2 separate regions of the Homo sapiens genome follow, and region 2 is linked to region 1. Evidence: fine-mapped QTL for protein levels in blood plasma. Region 1 holds a variant in brackets. A gene starts in the other region. All regions are shown on their forward strands.

The links. PIP is the chance, under the fine-mapping model, that this variant and not a neighbour inherited with it causes the effect. Protein levels are from antibody-based Olink assays in UK Biobank. Linkage for the fine-mapping came from a reference panel and not from the study's own genotypes, which makes the PIPs less certain.
Region 2: it holds the start of IL17F, and the variant in region 1 is fine-mapped to the plasma level of the IL17F protein (UK Biobank, PIP above 0.99).

The regions. Positions count from the first base shown.
Region 1 is chr14:106,046,103-106,055,337 of GRCh38, forward strand. It overlaps IGH. Among named protein-coding and RNA genes, the nearest start is that of FAM30A, 130 kb to the left of the region's middle. The variant GA/G (reference allele first, on the strand shown) is at 4,016.
Region 2 is chr6:52,241,184-52,250,418 of GRCh38, forward strand. IL17F (interleukin 17F) reads right to left here and starts at 3,317. Exons shown (of 3, transcript NM_052872.4): 1 at 3,214-3,317. The coding sequence starts at 3,246. It also overlaps the pseudogene SLC25A20P1.

The DNA.
Region 1 (9,235 bases):
AAATGAAAGCTGTATAAAAATATCTAACAATGATAAACAGGTTTGTACTAATTTCACTGCAGAAAGGGGGGCATGAATATCAGAAACAAGTATCTTTGGAAATAATTTGATGTTGTGATTGTAAAATATAAATAAGCTGCATATAAGCACGGTATTCTAGTCGATAAACATATTTTCAACAAGGGTCAGTTTAATAATTCTAACACAATTTGTGTATTTTGAAATTGTGCACTAAGTAAATTAATGTCATATGATAGGAAAGGTTTCCTCATTTTTCAATGTCAGATTATGGACAGGCAAAGAAAGAAGGCTACGGATGTCTATGTGGATCTTGGTAGTGTGAAGAAACCAGTATCTTCTTAGGTTTAATGTAATATAGATACAGAAGATGAGATACATAAATACTTTAATTTTGAATTTTTGTGGGTAAATGGTATATGTGTATATTTATGGGGTACCTGACTTTGATATAGCATGAACTGCATAATACTCACATTATGATGAATGGTTCCTACATCCTTTCAAGTATTAATTCTTTGAGTTACCAACATTCCATTTATACACTTTTAGTTATTTTACAATCTATAATTATGTTATTAAGGATTATACTTAGTCTGTTGTGTTATCAAATACTATGTATTATTTGTTATTTCTAACCACTTTTTTCATCCATTGAGCATCCCCAATAATCCCCATCTACCATAGACCTTCCCAGCCTCTGGTGACCATCCTTTCACTCTCTATCTCCACGAGTTCAGTTGTCTTAATTTTTAACTTCCACAAATATATGAGAATATGTGAAGTTTGTCTTTCGGTTCTGGGATTATTTCAATTAATATAATGAACTCCAGTTTCATCCACGTTGTTGCAAATGAAAAAATCTCATTCTCTTTATGGCATAATATTAATCCATATGCTATATGTACCACATTTTATTTATCCATCATCTGTTAATGGGCAGTTAGGATGCTTTCAAATTTTGGCTATTACGAACAGTGCTATAACAAACATGGTAGTGCAAACAACATTTTTTTTTTGTGGGAGGGAGTACATGCCAGCAGCAGGATTGCTGGATTATATGACAACACTACTATTAGGTTTTGAGGAAACTCTAAACTGTTCTCCATAGTGGTTTTATTAACTTAAGTGCCCACCAACAGGTTATGAGTGTTCTCATTTCTCCATATCCTTCCCAGCATTTGTTTCTGTCTGGCTTTTGGATGAAATCATTTTAAAATCAGATGAGATGATATTTCACTGTAGTTTTGTTTTGCATTGTTCTGATGATCAGTGTTACACAGCACATTTTATATGCCTGTTTGCAATTTGAAAGTCTTATTTTAAGAAATAAATATCGCCTGCTTTTTATTCGGATTACTAGATATTTTTCCTATAGAGTTGTCTGAGATCCTGGTATATTCTGATCAATCCTTTGTCAGATGGGTAGTAATGTCTCTTTCTCTCACACTATGAAAGACATGATGTCCTCATTCACAGGTGCATTCCGGGATATACACACAGTATCAATGGAAAAGCAGTCATTAGGCAGTGAGGCCTTTGACAGCCTCTACCTGATGTCTCTTTTTCGGAGTCTGTATCTCTTAACATAACAACTGGATGTTATTCTGTACTCATTGCTGGCATGCTGTCACTGTTTTGTGTCAAAAATTCATCCACATTTTAATGCAATTAAATTTGTTCCTATTTAGAGGGTCAGTTTTTGAGGTTTGTCATGACCCAGAATGTTATTTTTTTTTTTTTAAGAAAATGGGTCTAGCAATATCTTGCAGGCTGGCCTTGAAATCCTGGGCTTGGGTGATCTTCCCACATTAGCATCCTCACTAGTTGAAAATACAGGCACATGGCACAGTGTCTAACTGATTATTCTTAAATTATGCTATTTCTCATTCTCTCTGCTAAACCAAGTGGATATTGCTCTTGTGGAGCTGTCAGCTTTTCATTAATTACTTACAGTAAAAATATATTATGTGTTTTAGGATAACTTCATGGTAAAAATTATTCACAGTCAACTGCAAATATAGTCACACAATTTCCAGAGTGCTGTATCTCTGTCTTTATGCCATGCATCTTTACCTATAAAAATATAACAGCCTCCACCTTAGTGCACATGAAATTATTCATATATCTCAAAGTGATACTCCTGCTTTAAGAGCATAAAACTGTTTGGGAATCGTGGACTTAAATAGTCTCATTATGCCTCTCCCAGGAATATCCCCAGAACCTCTGCCATACAAGTGAGCAGGGGTGAGAATAATTGGAGTCCTTCTTGGTTCTTGGTCAATAACGCATGGCATGGAAACTCTGTCTCGTAAGTGAGGGTGGGAGGAGGCAGGCATCCATTACATCACAGACTGGAATTTAGTCTCCACCATAGAGATGTGACACCATGGCTTCAACTGAGATCTGAGGGAGAGAAAGCCACATCTTCTTTTCAGATCAGCTCGTGATCATGCTTCTGTCATCCTGAGCTGCAAATGAGAGAGTAATGCTTGTCTCTCAAGCATGGTGGACCCTCACTGCCCTTACTGAGACTTGGTAAATGGTTTAGTCTGTTTCAGCTGCTATAACAGAACTCCATTAAATGGGTGGCTCAGAAATATCATAAACATTGTTTTCTGAATTCTCAAGGCTAGGAAGTTGAAGATCTAGATGCTTTTGAGATCGGTGAGGACCAGCAATTTCTGGTGAGGACCGGCTATTATGTTCATAGGGGTGTAACTGACGGACATATCCAAACAAAAAATTTTGCATGGATGTTCATTTATATTTCCCCAAAACTGCATACATGTTGTATTATTCCTGATCAGTTGAGCAATTATAAGGCTTGAATAAGAAACTAAAACCTGCGCATTCAGCACACATATCCCTGAAATTAAAGTAAAAAAAAAATCTGTAACCAAACTTACAAATAAAGGAGGTAAGAAAATGAGGTCAGAACAGTTAACATTGAGTCCTCACGTGAAGGCCATTGGTGGTAAGTTACACAATGGGGCTGCAGTGAGATAGGCTACCAGGTGATCTAATTCTGAACCCCTCAATAACAGCCAACCAGCAATCTCTGGCAGTGGGTATGCTAGAAGTTCCCAGACATGGGAAAACTCTCTTACTCCATAAAACTGCACTGGGGTCGTCTGCAGCCTCTAAGTTCCACAGGAGCAGCTCCTACCCCAGACAAATCTCTGCTCTTTCTCTGGGGTCATGAGAGATGATGCGGAGAAGGTCAGTGATATGGTTTGTTTGTGTCCCCACCCAAATTTCATCTTGAATTGTAACTTCCACAATTCCCACATGTCATGGAAGGAACCTGATGGGAGGTGACTGAATTATGGGCATGGGTCTCTCCTGAGCTATTCGTGTGATAGTGAATGAGTTTCATGAGATCTGATGGATTAAAAAGGGGAGTTTTCCTTCATGTGCACTCTTCTCTAGTCTGCCACCATGTGAGACGTGATTTCCACCTTCCACCATAATTGTGAGGCCTCCCAAGCCATGTGGAACTGTAAGTCCAATAAACCTTTCTTTTATGAATTGTCCAGTCTTGGGACCAGCGTGATAACAGACTAATACAGTAAATTGGTACCAGTAGAGTGAGACATTGCTGAAAAGATAACCAAAAATATGGAAGTGACTTTTTAACTGGGTAACGGGCAGAGATTGGAAGAGTTTGCAGGGCTCAGAAAAAGACCGGAAAATATGGGATAGTTTGTAACTTCCTAGAGACTTGTTGAATTGCTTTGACAAAAATGCTGATAGTTATATGAACAATAAGGTCTAGCTTGAGGTGGTCTCAGATGGAGATGAGGAACTCATTGGGAACTGGAGCAAATTGTGGAATTTTGAACTTGAGAGAGATGATTTAGGGTGTCTGGCAGAAGAAATTTCTAAGCAGCAAAGAATTCAAAAAGCCACTTGAGTGCTATTAAAGGCATTCAGTTTTAAAGGGGAAACAGCATAAAAGTTCAGAAAATTTACAACCTGGCAAGGCAGTAGAAAA[GA/G]AAATCTTATTTTCTGAGGTGAAATTCAAGCCAGCTGCAGAAATTTGCATAAGTAATGAGGAGCCAAATGTTAATCCTCAAGACAATGGGGAAAATGTCTCCTGTGAATGTCAGAAGTCTTCACGGCAGCCCCTCCCATCACAGGCCTGGAGGCCTAAGAGGCAAAAGTGGTTTTGTGGTCCAGGCCCAGGGTGCCCGTGCTGTGTGCAGCCTAAGGAGTTGGTGCCCTGTGTCCAGCCACTCCAGCTATGGCTGAAAGACGCCAATGTAGGGCTCAGGCCATGGCTTCAGATGGTGCAAACCCCAAGCCTTGGCAGCTTCCACATGGTGTAGAGCCAGTGAGTACACAGAAGTCAAGAACTGGTCCTTGAGAACCTCTGCCTGGGTATCAGAAGATGTATGAAAACACCTGGGTGTCCAGGCAGAAGTTTGCTGCAGCAGTGGGACCCTCATGGAGAACCACTGCTAGGCCAGTGAGAAAGGGAAATATGGGGTCAGAGCTCCAACACAGAGTCCCTATTGGGGTATTGCATAGTGCAGCTGTGAGAAGAGGGCCGCCATCCTCCAGATCCCAGTGTGGTAGATCCACTGACAGCTTGCACCATGTGCCTGGAAAAGGCACATTCACTCAACACCAGCCTGTGAAAGCAGCCAGGAGGGAGGCTGTACCCTGCAAAGCCACAGGGGTGGAGCTGCCCAAGACCAAGGGAAACCATCTGTTGCATCAGCATGACCTGGATTTGGGAAATGGAGTCATAGGGGATCATTTTGGAGCTTTAATATTTGACTGCTCTGCTGGATTTTGGACTTGCAGAGGGCCCCTTTGTTTTGGGCAATTTCTGTCATTTGGATGGGTGTGTTTATCCAATGCCAGTACCCCCATTGTTTCTAGGAAGTAACTTGCTTTTGACTTTACAGGTTTATAGGTGGAAGGGACTTGCCTTGTCTCAGATGAGATGTTAGACTGTGGATTTTTGAGTTAATGCTGAAACAAGTTGACTCTGGGGGACTGTAGGAAAGGCATGACTGGTTTTGCAATGTGAGGACATGAGATTTGGGAGGGGCCATGGGGCAAAATAATATGGTTTGGCTGTGTCCCCACTCAAATCACATCTTGAATTTAACTCCCATAATTCCCAGTGTCATGGTAGGGACCCAGTGGTAGGTCATTGAATTATGGCTGCGGGTTTCTCCAGCACTGTTCATGTAATACTGCATGAGTTTCACGAGATCTGATGATTGTAAAAAGGGAGATCCCTGCACAAGCTCTCTTCTCTTGTCTGCCACCATGTCAGATGTGCCTTTCACCTTCCACCATGATTGTGAGGCCTTTCCAGTCATGTGGAAGTGTAAGTCCAATAAAACTCTTTCTATTGTAAACTTCCAAGTCTCTGGTATGTCTTTATCAGCAGCATGAAAACAGACTAATAGTCAGACATGATCTACTCAAGGCCTCTGCACATGGAGAAAAGCCAGTGAAAGTGGAAAATGTATTTTCTTGATTTATTGAAAAATACCTATAGAAAACACAACTGTGTGCCAGGACATCAAGCAGAATTTAAAAATTATGCAATTGGAATAAATGTGAAAATTACAATCATTTGCAGACACACATCTGTTCATATATCTTTCAATGAAATAAAGTAAATGCCAGTGTTCTGTGTAAAAATCAACAAAGAGTGTGTTGACCCTGAGAATACACCTCTCTCCCTCCCTTTAAAGGCAGGAAAATGCACATGGATCAGGTGTCAAGCTGCTGCTTTCTGACGTCTATGCTATGGCCCAGATCCTGTGGTCCACTCTAATGAAAAGAAGGACTCTTTAGTGATTCTGAGGCAGAGTCATTGCTGGAGTCACAGGGGTTCCCCCTTGGGTAATGTTGACTTGTAGTAGACTCAAATATGTTTTACACCTTCCTTGCACAGCACAGAAACCTAAGAATGTTTCACCCAATCCTCCGTCCATCTCTCCTTTACTCAGGGACAGATTTCTACCATATGCCATCAGCTTCTGCAGCCACATGTCACCCCCTGTGCATTTCCTGTCAAAAGAGTGGAAGTACTTCTTATGAAAAATGCATGAAAGCATAATCCAGTCTTGGACTTTCCATCTCAAAAGACCAATAATAACACATATATTTCAGCAAAATTATTTATCCTATGATTATGACTATATTTGGCAATTGTTTTGGCAAAAAACAAAAATCATGGTGTTGGATAATGAAGATGTAAGAAGGGCCAAGACTGTTACAACTTTTTATTGATGACCTGGGGCGTAGTAGGGGTAGGTGCTGACCTCAAGATAAGAGGACTGGAACCTCATTGCAACTGTCTGAGTGTACTCACGCAGGCCTGCCTGGGGTTCCAAGGCTTGCATGGCAAAGCTGTCAGTGCTGTCATCTATAATTCTAGCACCACATTTGAGGGAACAACATACTATAAAGTACATAATGAGAACTAGGGTAAGGAGTGCAATTCGCAGTTTTAAAAGTAAAGATTTGAACGCATTAGTTTATGGCTTTGTAGCCTACAAATAATTTAGAATTTCGTCCAAACTGCTGAAGAAAAAAAAACAAGAACAGCAAACAACAGGTGTACTATATTTTTAAAGCATAATTTTTTTCTCTCTTGTCCCCATTTTTATTTAAAACAAATCAAGATAGGACTGATTTATTTGCAAAATAAACTTTAGTCTTATTCATGGCCTTATTATTTGCATAAAGCACAATACAAATAATTATTGTTTACACAGGCTTTTAAAATTGGCTTTGGTGGAACTCTGTTCCATAAGGAATCTCAGATAAGACTTTTTTAAAGCCAAGCCCAGCCATGAGTTTTTACCATCAAATACCTGTAAGTCTGGTAAATTATTTTTCCTCTGGGGTCCCAGGAAAACATGGGGTTCTTGGGCCTGTTAGAAAGTGACATTCTTTACTTACCACTGGTCAGGAACCTTGTACAAAGACTGTGTGGACAAGGTACAGGCCAGTTTTCCCAAGGGGCTCTTATTGGCTGTATAAGTCAAGTTCGATTGCTTAAGGTGAAGCACGCCATTACAGTCAAAGCCTTGGTAAAATAACCAGTTTCTCCAATTGTGTCCTGTTGCAAAAAAAAAAAAATCTTACTGCACTTATGAAAAATCATATTGCCATAAGTTAAGGATATTCACAAAGAGTTTCCAAATTCTGGAGAAAGTGGACAGAGAGAAACAAATATTCTCCAAATTTTATGTACAGGACTATACTCAATTGTTGAAAGCTATAAATAGCTCAAAAGAAAAGTTTTCTTGGGCAACATTTTAAGTGAAAAGTCAAAAAAGATAGTCTTCTATTTGATAGTTTTATCTCTATACTATTGTAACCATCTTCAGAGTTTTTAATCAGAAATCTGCATGTAAGAGCACCTGTTAGAGTTTCATAGATGGTTATAAAACCATCACTTAAAGAGAAACAAAACAAGTCGATAAGGTCAAAACTCAAAGGGAGGAATTGAAGCCACCACTGCAAAGCTGCAACTGAAACAGTGAAAGAGCTGTGACCTAACCTGCTCCATCTTGCCTCAAACCTCCAGGTTGTCCTTGTGCATTCCTGGGTGTAGGCTTACCTAACATTGGGAGGAACTTAGTTTAGTTTATAGTTTAAAACAGAGACAATAACTGCCCTTTCCCAAAACAAATCTCCTTCGTCCTGGGGACTAGACTGCCTTTGGGGGACTAACGAATTAGCCAAAATATTAGAAATTATGTTTTAAGAGTCATGCAGCTGGTGGCTACAAATTCTAACCCTTCCTAGTTTGCTCCTGGGGATAAAATGACTATTATAAAGCCTAAGATCAATGCTTTAGATATTTTACAGACTCTGCACTTGATGGATCAGCTGGCATCACCCAGATCAATAAACTGGCTCATCCGATCTTGTGGCCCCCTCCTAGGAACTGACTCAGCACAAGACACCTTCAGCTCCCTATGATTTTATCTCTGACCTGATCAATCAGTACTCATGACTCACTGGCTGCCCCCAACCCACCAAGCTATCCTTAAAAAATCCCATTCTTGAATGCTTGGCGAGACTCATTTCAGTAACAATAAAACTCTGGTTTCCAATAAATAAATAAATAAATAAATAAATAAATGTCATGGCAACAATCAATTTTATGTGTCCCCTTGACTCATAGAGTCATTTATTCAGTTACACACTAACCTAGGTGTTGTACTGATCCTATAATATAAGTGTTAGTAAAGCCTGCCATCATTTTTTTCCTAAGTCAGGAAGATTGTCCTAGATAACCTAGGTGGGGCTGATTCCATCAGAGCATAAGAGATGACGATGGGACTCCATGGAGGATGACAGTGTAGGTCTTCCCAGAAATTCCAACTCCATTGACCTGAAACCCTGTAGGATTTGCCTAGCCAGACCCTCCAATTGCTGTCACCCAGAGCTCACAGCACAATAGAGTGTCCATCCTTAGCTTTCCCCAAAGTCACAGATGAAGGAGGAAATTCTGTGACAGTGTGAGAAACAGAAGATCAGCTCTACATCAGTATCTCATTTGAGAAAGCTACCATTATCCCCTCAGTGACTAATGTCCACTTCATTTCCCAAATGCCTCCATGCACAGAAGACAGCAGGCGGGTCCAGGCAATGGTGAGTGGGAAAGTCCCCTCAGCCTCCCCAGGTCTCACAGGAGCCACAGCCTGGGCCACACCTGAGTTCCAGGTAACAGGCCTGAGCCCTGAGATTTAGACCACAGAAAACACACTCTCTGTTTTCTGGGAAGGGAAGAAAAGGGAACTATGAGAATGAAGTGTAGAGAGAAGAAAAATTGATTAGCAAGTAAGGGCCAGCTGGATCAGTTCTGAGTCAGATGTGCACAGTTTTGCCAGAGGAGGGAGAACAGCTGTAAAAACTGTCAGGATTTAAGGACCCTCCCATGGGTGAGACTCCCTCTTGGCCCAAGTCTGAATCCCAAACCTATTCTAATCAGAGATTTCCACGGAGGTCTCTGCCCTGAGCCTGACTGGAAAACACTCCCCAGGTTCCACTGGGCTTCCTCAGGACACTGATCAATGTGACCAAGGCAGGGTCATTTCTGCCCCCAAGGTGACACTCGGGCTTCTGTAGGGGTGAGGATGGGTCTTCCTGTTACAAAAAACAAAACAAAACAAACAAACAAAAAACAAATATGTGAGGGAAGTTTAGCAGTCACAGACATCAAATGTTA
Region 2 (9,235 bases), not on the chromosome of region 1:
TTCTCCTGCCTCAGCCTTCCGAGTAGCTGGGATTACATACGTGCGCCACCACACCTGATAATTTTTTGTATTTTTAGTAGATATAGGGTTTCATCATGTGGTCAGGCTGGTCTTGAACTCCTGACCTCAAGTGATCTGCCCACCTCGGCCTCCCAAAATGCTGGGATTACAGGCCTGAGCTACCGCGCCTGGCCTGCTATGACTTTTTTTTTAAAAGATGCCAACTTATATTAGAGGGTCTTAGATAACTTCCCAAGCCTACCAATCACATATTTAGGGTTCTTAAGTAAATTCCTCCTTTGTGTTTTCTCTTTCCTCTTCTGTGTCATACTCACTGAATCACTATTAATTTTCATTATGAAAACTTTTAAATACATACATTGGAGTTATATGACTTAGCAATAATTACAATGCTTCTAACAAGTCATTATTACATTTGCTTATATATTCTTAGAGTATATTAGAAAATTCTTTTACATCTCTTTAAACACTGGATTTTCACAACTACCTGGTGAGGTAATCAGAGCTAGTATTAATTATCCCAATTAGACAGGTGAAAGAGTTCTGTCCCAGAGGGAATAAATAACTTGATTGGGTTCACCAGCCTATGAGTACCAGTCTGGGGACTCAAACCTAGGTGTCAGTAGTCAGTGCTATTGTCATTGAAGGTCATTTTTATTATTACCAACATTAATCTTAGTTTTGTCTCATTAGAAGAGCTAAGTGTTTTAGGTAATGTGACAGCTGTACTAGATGTGCATAAGTGTTGTAGGTCACATAGCTCGTTATCAGGAAATCAGATGATGTCTGCAAATACTCCAATTTGCTCCACAAAGCTTTTGATCTGAAACTGTAGATTTTAGTGGTTATGTAATACAGAGCAGGGGCTCTGAACCAGGCTGTTGCTGGTTCTTAAGAATGATTTAAACAGCACCTCTCAGAGAAATCCAGAGCATGACTTGAACTCTTATATGCCACCTATAAAGCAGATGAATAGATATCGCTCTCAATCTGTATAATAGGGGACAGGGGCAAGGGAAAGCACCAGGTGAAGGTGAGCTGTAACAGGACAACAACCTTCTCAGCCTAGCTTTGCACCTCACTCTAATGTGAGCTCACCTGAGCAACCTGAACATCCATCCTCTATACTCACCAGCAATGTGTGGACACATGTAAGCATGCACCTGGCCAACCTCTAGGTCCATGAGAATTTGCCTCAACTACTTATTGAAGATGTCCTATCTGCCTGCACCTCTCAACTTCTAATCCTATTCCAATGCTCCTTGCACTGTTATGTTTCTTGCTGACAACCCAACAGATTTCTTTAAGGAAACTAGAATTAGAAATAGCTATGGAGCACAAAGCTACCCAACAGAATTGCTTGGATGCAATGGCTTTAAATTCACAAATCTTGCCTCTGAACCAAAGAAAAGCATACTGTATGTGGAGACAGAAAGCTTAGATTGGTGTACCAGTTCTTGTGCTTACAGTATCCAGCAATGTTAAATAAATAGCTTAATTGAGCTTTTGTTCATCTGTATAAAGTGGAAAGTATTCCCATCTACTTCAGTGGATTGATCAGAATTTCCAGGACAATAATAACAATATTAATATGAACAGTTAACACTTACTGAATGCTTTCTCTATCATTATCAGTCGTTGTTTATTAGAATGGCCAAATTAACTGAAAATTAAGCATACACAAATCTGCCAGTACAGAGTATAGACTCATTTATTCTCAAAGATATTAATTAATCCTCCCAATAAATGCCATGAGAAAGATGCCATTGTTATCCCCACCATACAGTTGAGGAAACGGAGGCACAGAGAAGATAAATAACTTACCCAAAAATCCTACATTTAGCAAGCAGTGGAGCCAGGTCTGCCTGACATCAAAGCCTATGCCCCTAAATATGGCACTTTGCTGAGCTACATGTAATCTTTAAAATAACACATAAATATAAAATAAAACATACCATTGCTATATGCCATGAACCTTTTATGATATTCAAGCTCTTTTAAGTTGTATGGCTTGTAAAAGGAGAAAAAAAGGAAATTATCTAAGCCAATAATATGATGCGGGATTTCCTAACCCCTGTTTTCATGTACCTCTATAGTAAATTCTTCTCAGGCCTTATCTGACTAATGTCAGGCAAGATTCCAGACCTGCTGGGGCTAGATTTTCATTGCATTAACATCTCTCTTTCCTCCAAGAAGAATGAGATGGTACAAAATAAATAAATAGCAATCAGAGACATGGGAAATTTCCCTTCTCTAGGAGCTGTCCAAAGTCAACACTGGGTGATTTCATTTCTTCCATCCAGGGCACTCCTGTAATCTCAGGGGAATCATTAAACCTCTTGAGGCCCCAGTTTCCTTGGTTAAAATGTATATGTACATAATCCCTAAAGTGCTGGCCAAGCTCCCACCATGAGATAAGAATTTCAGGCCAACCTGACTCTATAATGGATGGCCACAGGAAAGAACATGCTAGTTGTCTGTGATGCCAAGGACTGCACACACTAACACCACCTGGGCACACACTAACACCACCTGGGCAAAAGCCATTGGGTGAGGAGCTGCATTTTTTTTTCTTTGAGACAGAGTCTCGCTATGTCACCCAGGATGGAGTGCAGTGGCGTGATCTTGGCTCATTGCAACCTCCGCCTCCCAGGTTCAAGCCATTCTCCTGCCTCAGCCTCCCGAGTAGCTGGGATTACAGGCAACTGACCCATGCCCAGCTAATTTTTGTATTTTTAGTAGAGACAGGGTTTCAAGTTAGTCAGGCTGGTCTCAAACCCCTGACCTCAAGTGATCCACCCACCTCAGCCTCTCAAAGTGCTGGGATTACAGGCGTGAGCCACCAGGCTCGACCTAATTTCTGTATTTTTAGTAGAGACCGGGTTTCGCTATGTTGGTCAGGCTGGTCTCGAACTCCTGAACTCATGTGACCCGCCCGCCTTGGCCTCCTAAAGTGCTGGGATTACAGGCATGAGCCACCACGCCTGGCCAGGAGCTGCATTTTTATGCCATTATAACTTTTCTAGTTATTTTTTTCTTTTTCTCCACCAGACAGGAGTCAAAATTAAAGTCATCTCTGTTTTTTAAGAAGTAATTCCAAAAAGACCCCAATCAAACCTAATTCCTTAGGATTCTGTTTTCTGAAATCCTAGGCATGACAGTCCTTAAACCAGAATGATTGCTGCTACTCACCATGGCTGGGCCATGCAGGGTCTTCACTGTCATGTTGCGCTGGTGGCTTACTTTGTGCAGGAAGCTCTTTCTGTGAATGTATCTTCCTGTGTATGCCTGTGTTCTATCAATGAGAGTACCTGTTAGTTTTATAGCAATCATTGCCCCTGTTTCGATTGACCTGCTTACTGTCTTTAAGTTGTGGTTGACCCGGAGTTACTGACGAATGCAGGGGTTTTTTTTTTTATTCCATTTCCCGAAGGGGAACAAAAGGGGGACCCTAAAGAAAGGGATGACAGGAAAAGGACCAAATTTTTCTTTCCTTCTACCCTACTTCCACCCCCATTGCCCACAAATCAGAGCAAAATTTTTAATTTACTACAGAGATGAACCAAGTTAGAAATTGTTGTCAAATCTTTTTTGTTCTTCCACAAATTGCCAACACCCTTGTCACGGACCATATGTTCTACTTTCCAGTCACGCAATATGAATCGTGATTTAAATGGGAGAAAACTCATCCTTAGAGGAGCCTTGGTACTAAACTATCTTTACCTCCATTTTATGAATGGGAAAACAAAACTAAAGAAATGAATGACATAAGTGAAAAATTCAGAAATGATATACCCTGGTAGTTTTGTTATCTCCCTGAACTAATTATTTTTTAACCCCATGGTTAGACTCCTACTGGTGCTTAATAAATAATCACTATTCATTGTGTTGATAAAACAAACTGTTTTCCTCTGCTCTCACACCACAACCAGCAACACAAAAGATTTCCATGACCATGTATGTGGGCATTTATCTCCATCAACCAGCAAGCAATCAATTCTGCATCCAACGCCAGCTAAGCATCTTCTAATCCAATTCAATTCTGACGCTATCTCCAGGTAGGTAGAGTCAGATCCCACAGGCTGAAGGCTCAGTCCCACAAAACTGCTCCCACTTTAAGCACCAATCACAGGTCCAAGCCTCTGGGACTTCTGACTGACTGGCCTCAAGTTCAGGTTCCCACAAACCGCTTGAGTTTGATTAGGCTTGATTAATTTGTTAGAACAGCTCACAAAACTTAGGGAACACTAATTTATATTTACCAGTATATTCTAAAGGATATTTTTAAGGATACAAGTCAACAGCCAGATGAAAAGGTACACAGGGCAAGGTTTGAAAGGGTCACAAGCACAGAAGTGTTCTTTCCCATGGAGCTGGGGTGCACCACCCTCCCAGCACAGGGATGAGTTACTGTTTACCTTTCTTAGAACTTCCACAAGTTCAGCGGTCCAAAGGCTCTTTGTATCCCATCCTCTTGGGCCTTTTATGGAGTCTTCATTGGGCAGACATGATTACAACATGGAAAACTGTAAACAAATGTGATTGGATAAAAAGGGTATAACCTGATATTAACAGGTTGAATGAGGAAATTCAGCCAGGCCTGCCTGTTCAGATTTTTCTTGGCCTCTCTGAGCAGCCTTCCTTCCTCCTGGGTAGAGGGGAGGACCCTTCCTGAATTGAGGGTCTTATGGCCTATGATTAGACAAGGTAAATCAAAGAATTTCTTTATGGCCAGCTCCAAGACAAAAGGTGTGGGGGGTGATGTTAGATGACAGGATATTTTCTGTTTCTATGGTCTTGGGGAGAAAAGGTGGGCAGGAGAAGTTCAGAGAGGGAGATTCTTTTTTCTGAGGCCTATTTCTTAGGCCTAAAGTGCCCCAACATTACAATAAAAGACTGTCTTTTTCACCTTTATTGCTCTGAAGCTGTCTGAAGCTGCTTCAGGAAACAAAGACAAAAAAGCTAAATACCCTAACAAAAGATATGCTTATTATTTTTATCACTTAGGATATAACGAGGGCTGTGGGAGTTATGAACCAGGAGCCATGGACAAATATACATATATGTAAAATCACATTGATGCAACACTTAAATGCCCATTACCTTGGCTATCTCTAAGAATGGTTTTTTTTAACCAAAATTAATTAGCAAGTAGAAGCCTTTAAATGCAAGATTGGCAGCCCTGGCACTGCAGCTGGGGCAGCAGAGCCAGGACGGCCCAGGAACTGACAGACTGAGGGATAGGCAGACTGACCATAGCCGACCAGCCAAAGCCCATCAGCCTGCTCAAGAACCTGCTGGCCAGTGGCTTTGGTGGCATGTGCCTGGTGTTCATGGGGCACCCTCTGGACACTGTCAAGGTCCGACTGCAGACACAGCCACCGAGTTTGCCTAGACAGCCTCCCATGTACTCTGGGACCTTTGACTCTCTCCCAAAGACTCTTAGAAGGGACATCACAGGGCTATATAAGGGAATGGCTGCCCCTATCATCGGTGTCACCCCCATCTTTGCTGTGTGCTTCTTTGGGTTTGGTTTGAGGAAGAAACTATGACAGAAACACCCAGAAGATGTGCTCAGCTATCCCCAGCTGTTTGCAGCTGGGATGTTATCTGGTACATTCACCACAGGCATCGCGACCCCTGGAGAACCCATCAAGTCCTTGTTACACTTTCAGCCTTCTTCAGGGGAAACCAAGTACACTGGAACCTTGGACTGTGCAAAGAAGTTGTACCAGGAGTTTCAGATCCGAGGCATCTACAAAGGGACCGTGCTTACCCTTATGTGAGACGTTCCAGCTAGCGGAACGTATTTCATGACAAATGAATGGCTAAAAAATATCTTCACTCCGGAAGGAAAGAGGGTCTGTGAGCTCAGTGTGCCTTGAATCCTGGTGGCTGGGTGCATTGCAGGGATCTTCAACTGGGCAATGGCAGTCCCGCAAGATGTGCTCAAGTATCCCTTCCAGACGCACCTCCTGGGAAATATCCTAACAGTTTTGGAGATGTGCTGAGGGAGCTGATCTGGGATGAAGGAATCACATCCTTGTCTAAAGGGTCTGATGCAGTGATGACCCGAGCCTTCCCAGCCAATGCAGCCTGTTTCCTTGGCCTTGAAGTTGCCATGAAGTTTCTTAATTGGGCCACCCCCAACTTGTGAGGCAGAAGGCTGCTCAAGACTTCTGGATGCTGGAACTGTTGCTGAGAAGGAAGAGTAGTGGGCAGAACTAAGCAGACTTGGAGAATGAGGGGAGGAGACGGTGGGATCAGAGCTCTGCGCATGGACTTGGTGAGACTGTTGCCTTAATGACATCCTCTACCTTGTATAAGTTGGTGTGTCATTTCGCAACTTGAATTCATTCTTGTCAATGTAAGGGACCTTAAGAGGATTTGGAGATCTAGTAGTTTCTAGACCAGATACTACCTGTGGCAAGAATACTGCCTACCAGTTGACGGTTGGCCCTACCACACCCAAAGTGTTTCTCATTAAAGAGGTAATCTCAGCTTCTCACTGGAGGCACTTTGGATGCTTTCAACCAGCTGACCAGGGGCTGAGATCATCTTCAATCCCTAGCCAGGAACACCCACTTGATTTCCAGGGTACCACCTAATCCTGGGCTGCACATGGGGATTTGGACTTGAGCCCCACATCTGTGTCCAACTGGACTGGGCATATATGCTTAGGAAGAGATAACCTATTAGCTATTGATTTTTGCTTTTTTTTTTTTACACAAGTAATCAAAAGTAAAACTAGAGTAGAGTAGCCTAATTTCCCAAGAATGGGTGAAAAACTTTCCTTTCTACACAGTGAGGACAGTCCCAGCCTGCTGGGATAAGTGAGAAAACCCAGGGTGAAGGAAGGCTCTTTCTGCACAATCTTTTCTCATGAGAGCGCCATATTTTTGTTTCCAATTTTTGAAGGAAAAAAATTAAGCGTTTAAATGCTCTGACATGAAATTTAAATGACCTGCAAAAAGTTAATTTGTCTCAGTTCAGTTCAGGTTGTCAAACATTTGTTAAACACATTCTATGTGTCAGGCATTGTGCCCTAGAGATACACAGACATTCCCCAAAAAACAGTAACTTATCTTTTTTTACATTCATTAAGATTGGGTAAAATTACACATCATCTTTTCATAAGGCAGGACACATTCTAGCAGGGCAAAGTTATTTTCCTCTAGCGTAACATGTTCGAACAACTCTTTGCCATTTTCTTCACATGAAGAAAATGAAGAGAAAGTTGTTCTTAGGTTCATTGGAAGGCCCTGAAAAACCGATCAAAATTCTGTGATCACAGGCCTTCCATCCACCCTGCTCCCCTCCATGCCTGTGCAATCCTCTGCAGCTCTCTCTGGAACAACCAGAAGTGTAACTTCTACAAAAAGATTTCCTCAAATCACCCTTTCAGGCATTGTTCCCTTCCTCAACCTCTTGTGCCAATACTTGTGTATCTTGCCCTCACATACATGTTTTAGGATAGTTCCCTGGGATCTTCATATATTTGGGTAACTTTACCCTGCTTCCCAATAATCTCTACCAGCCTCCTTCTCCAAATATACATCCTCAAATATACAATCTAGATTAAACAGTGTATTCTATGCAAAGACAGACTCAAGTCCCCTGGCCAACCCCTTCTAGCCAGACTGAACCCCCTAAGCCCATCTTACGGAGAATTTTCAAGGCCTCCCCAGGAGTGACCTTCCATGTGCACAGTGAAGGTAGCTCCATGAAATCAAGAGCCATGTTTTCATCTTTGCTTATATCACTCATGCTCCCAAAGCAACATGTGCAATAGACCTTTAAATGTGTACTAAATTGAGTGGATTGAGTCACTCATTTTCTTCAGTGATCTCTTTTCCATTCAGAGCTGTACCTCAATGCATAGAAGAATATACCAGCTCTCTTGAAAGAAAGAATGAATAAATCAGTTGGAACCAAGAGTACCGAATTCAAAACAAGAGGATTTGCTAGATTGCAGGGGAGAACAAAATGGTTCTTTATGTAAGCAGGAGGCAACACTGACCTTTGGTCACAGTTTTCCCCCTTGGGGTAAAAACAACTCTTATCAGGATGCCAGACTGGTAACTGGCTATCACTGAGTTCAAACTAAATCAACAGATCCAGATTCTTATCTCATCTAGCATTCATTGAGCACTTCCTATAATGTAAATCATGTGCTAATACCAGGGACACACTAATGAACATATGATGGGCACACGGCTGACTATGGTGGAACCCTTCACTGACTGGCTCTATACCACTCATGATCTAAGCTGTCACCAGCTTTAAGAGTTTCAATAATGCATTGGAGCCATTATTCAACACACTGACAGCGAGATGACTACAGTCAACTCCAAGAGCCCACAAAAAGAGATACCAAAAGACTCTGTTGTCTTAGCAATGAGTTACACACAGCCTCAAATGTGGTAAAATACTATACTTCTTCAAACATCCAAATCAGCAAGATGTTTTCATGCCCTCATATGTGCTTGGAGCCATGATACATTTTGTTGGGGCTAGTAGCACAGGCAATAGACTGTATTATTACAGTCTCTACCTTAATGAGCTTAAAACAGTCATGGAAAAAAGTGAACACGCACATATAAACCAGTAAGATAATAATATGAGATTGCTGGGAATAATGATAAAATAAATGTACACATTTAGTTTAACAAATACAACTTTTAAAAACTTTTATTCTCATTTTTAAAAGGGGTATCTAGCCAGGTGTGGTGGCTCATGCCTGCAATCCCCACACTTTGGGAGGCCAAGGAGGGCAGATCACTTGAGGCCAGGAGTTTGAGACCAGCCTGGGCAACATGGCAAAACCCTCTACAAAAAATACAAAACTTAGCTGGGTGTAGTGGTGCACACCTGTAGTCCCAGCTAATTGGGAGGCTGGGGCCAGAGGATCACTTGAGCCCAGCTACTCAGGAGGTTGAGGCTGCAGTGAGCAGAGATTGTGCCACTGCTCTCCAGCCTGGGTTACAGAGTGAGACCCTCTCTCAAAAAGAAAAAAGAAAAAAAGTGCATCTAATCAAGATATACTACTGCAACATGACAGTATATCTGCAGTTACAGAAATTTATGCCTTGAAGTAAAGTGCTATCATAACAGAAAGCATGAAACAGTGGTCAGGTAGCACGCCATAGGCTGGACAGACGATAATCCATGCTCTACAATGGCAAAACATTTAGTTAAACCATTGCCTGCAATA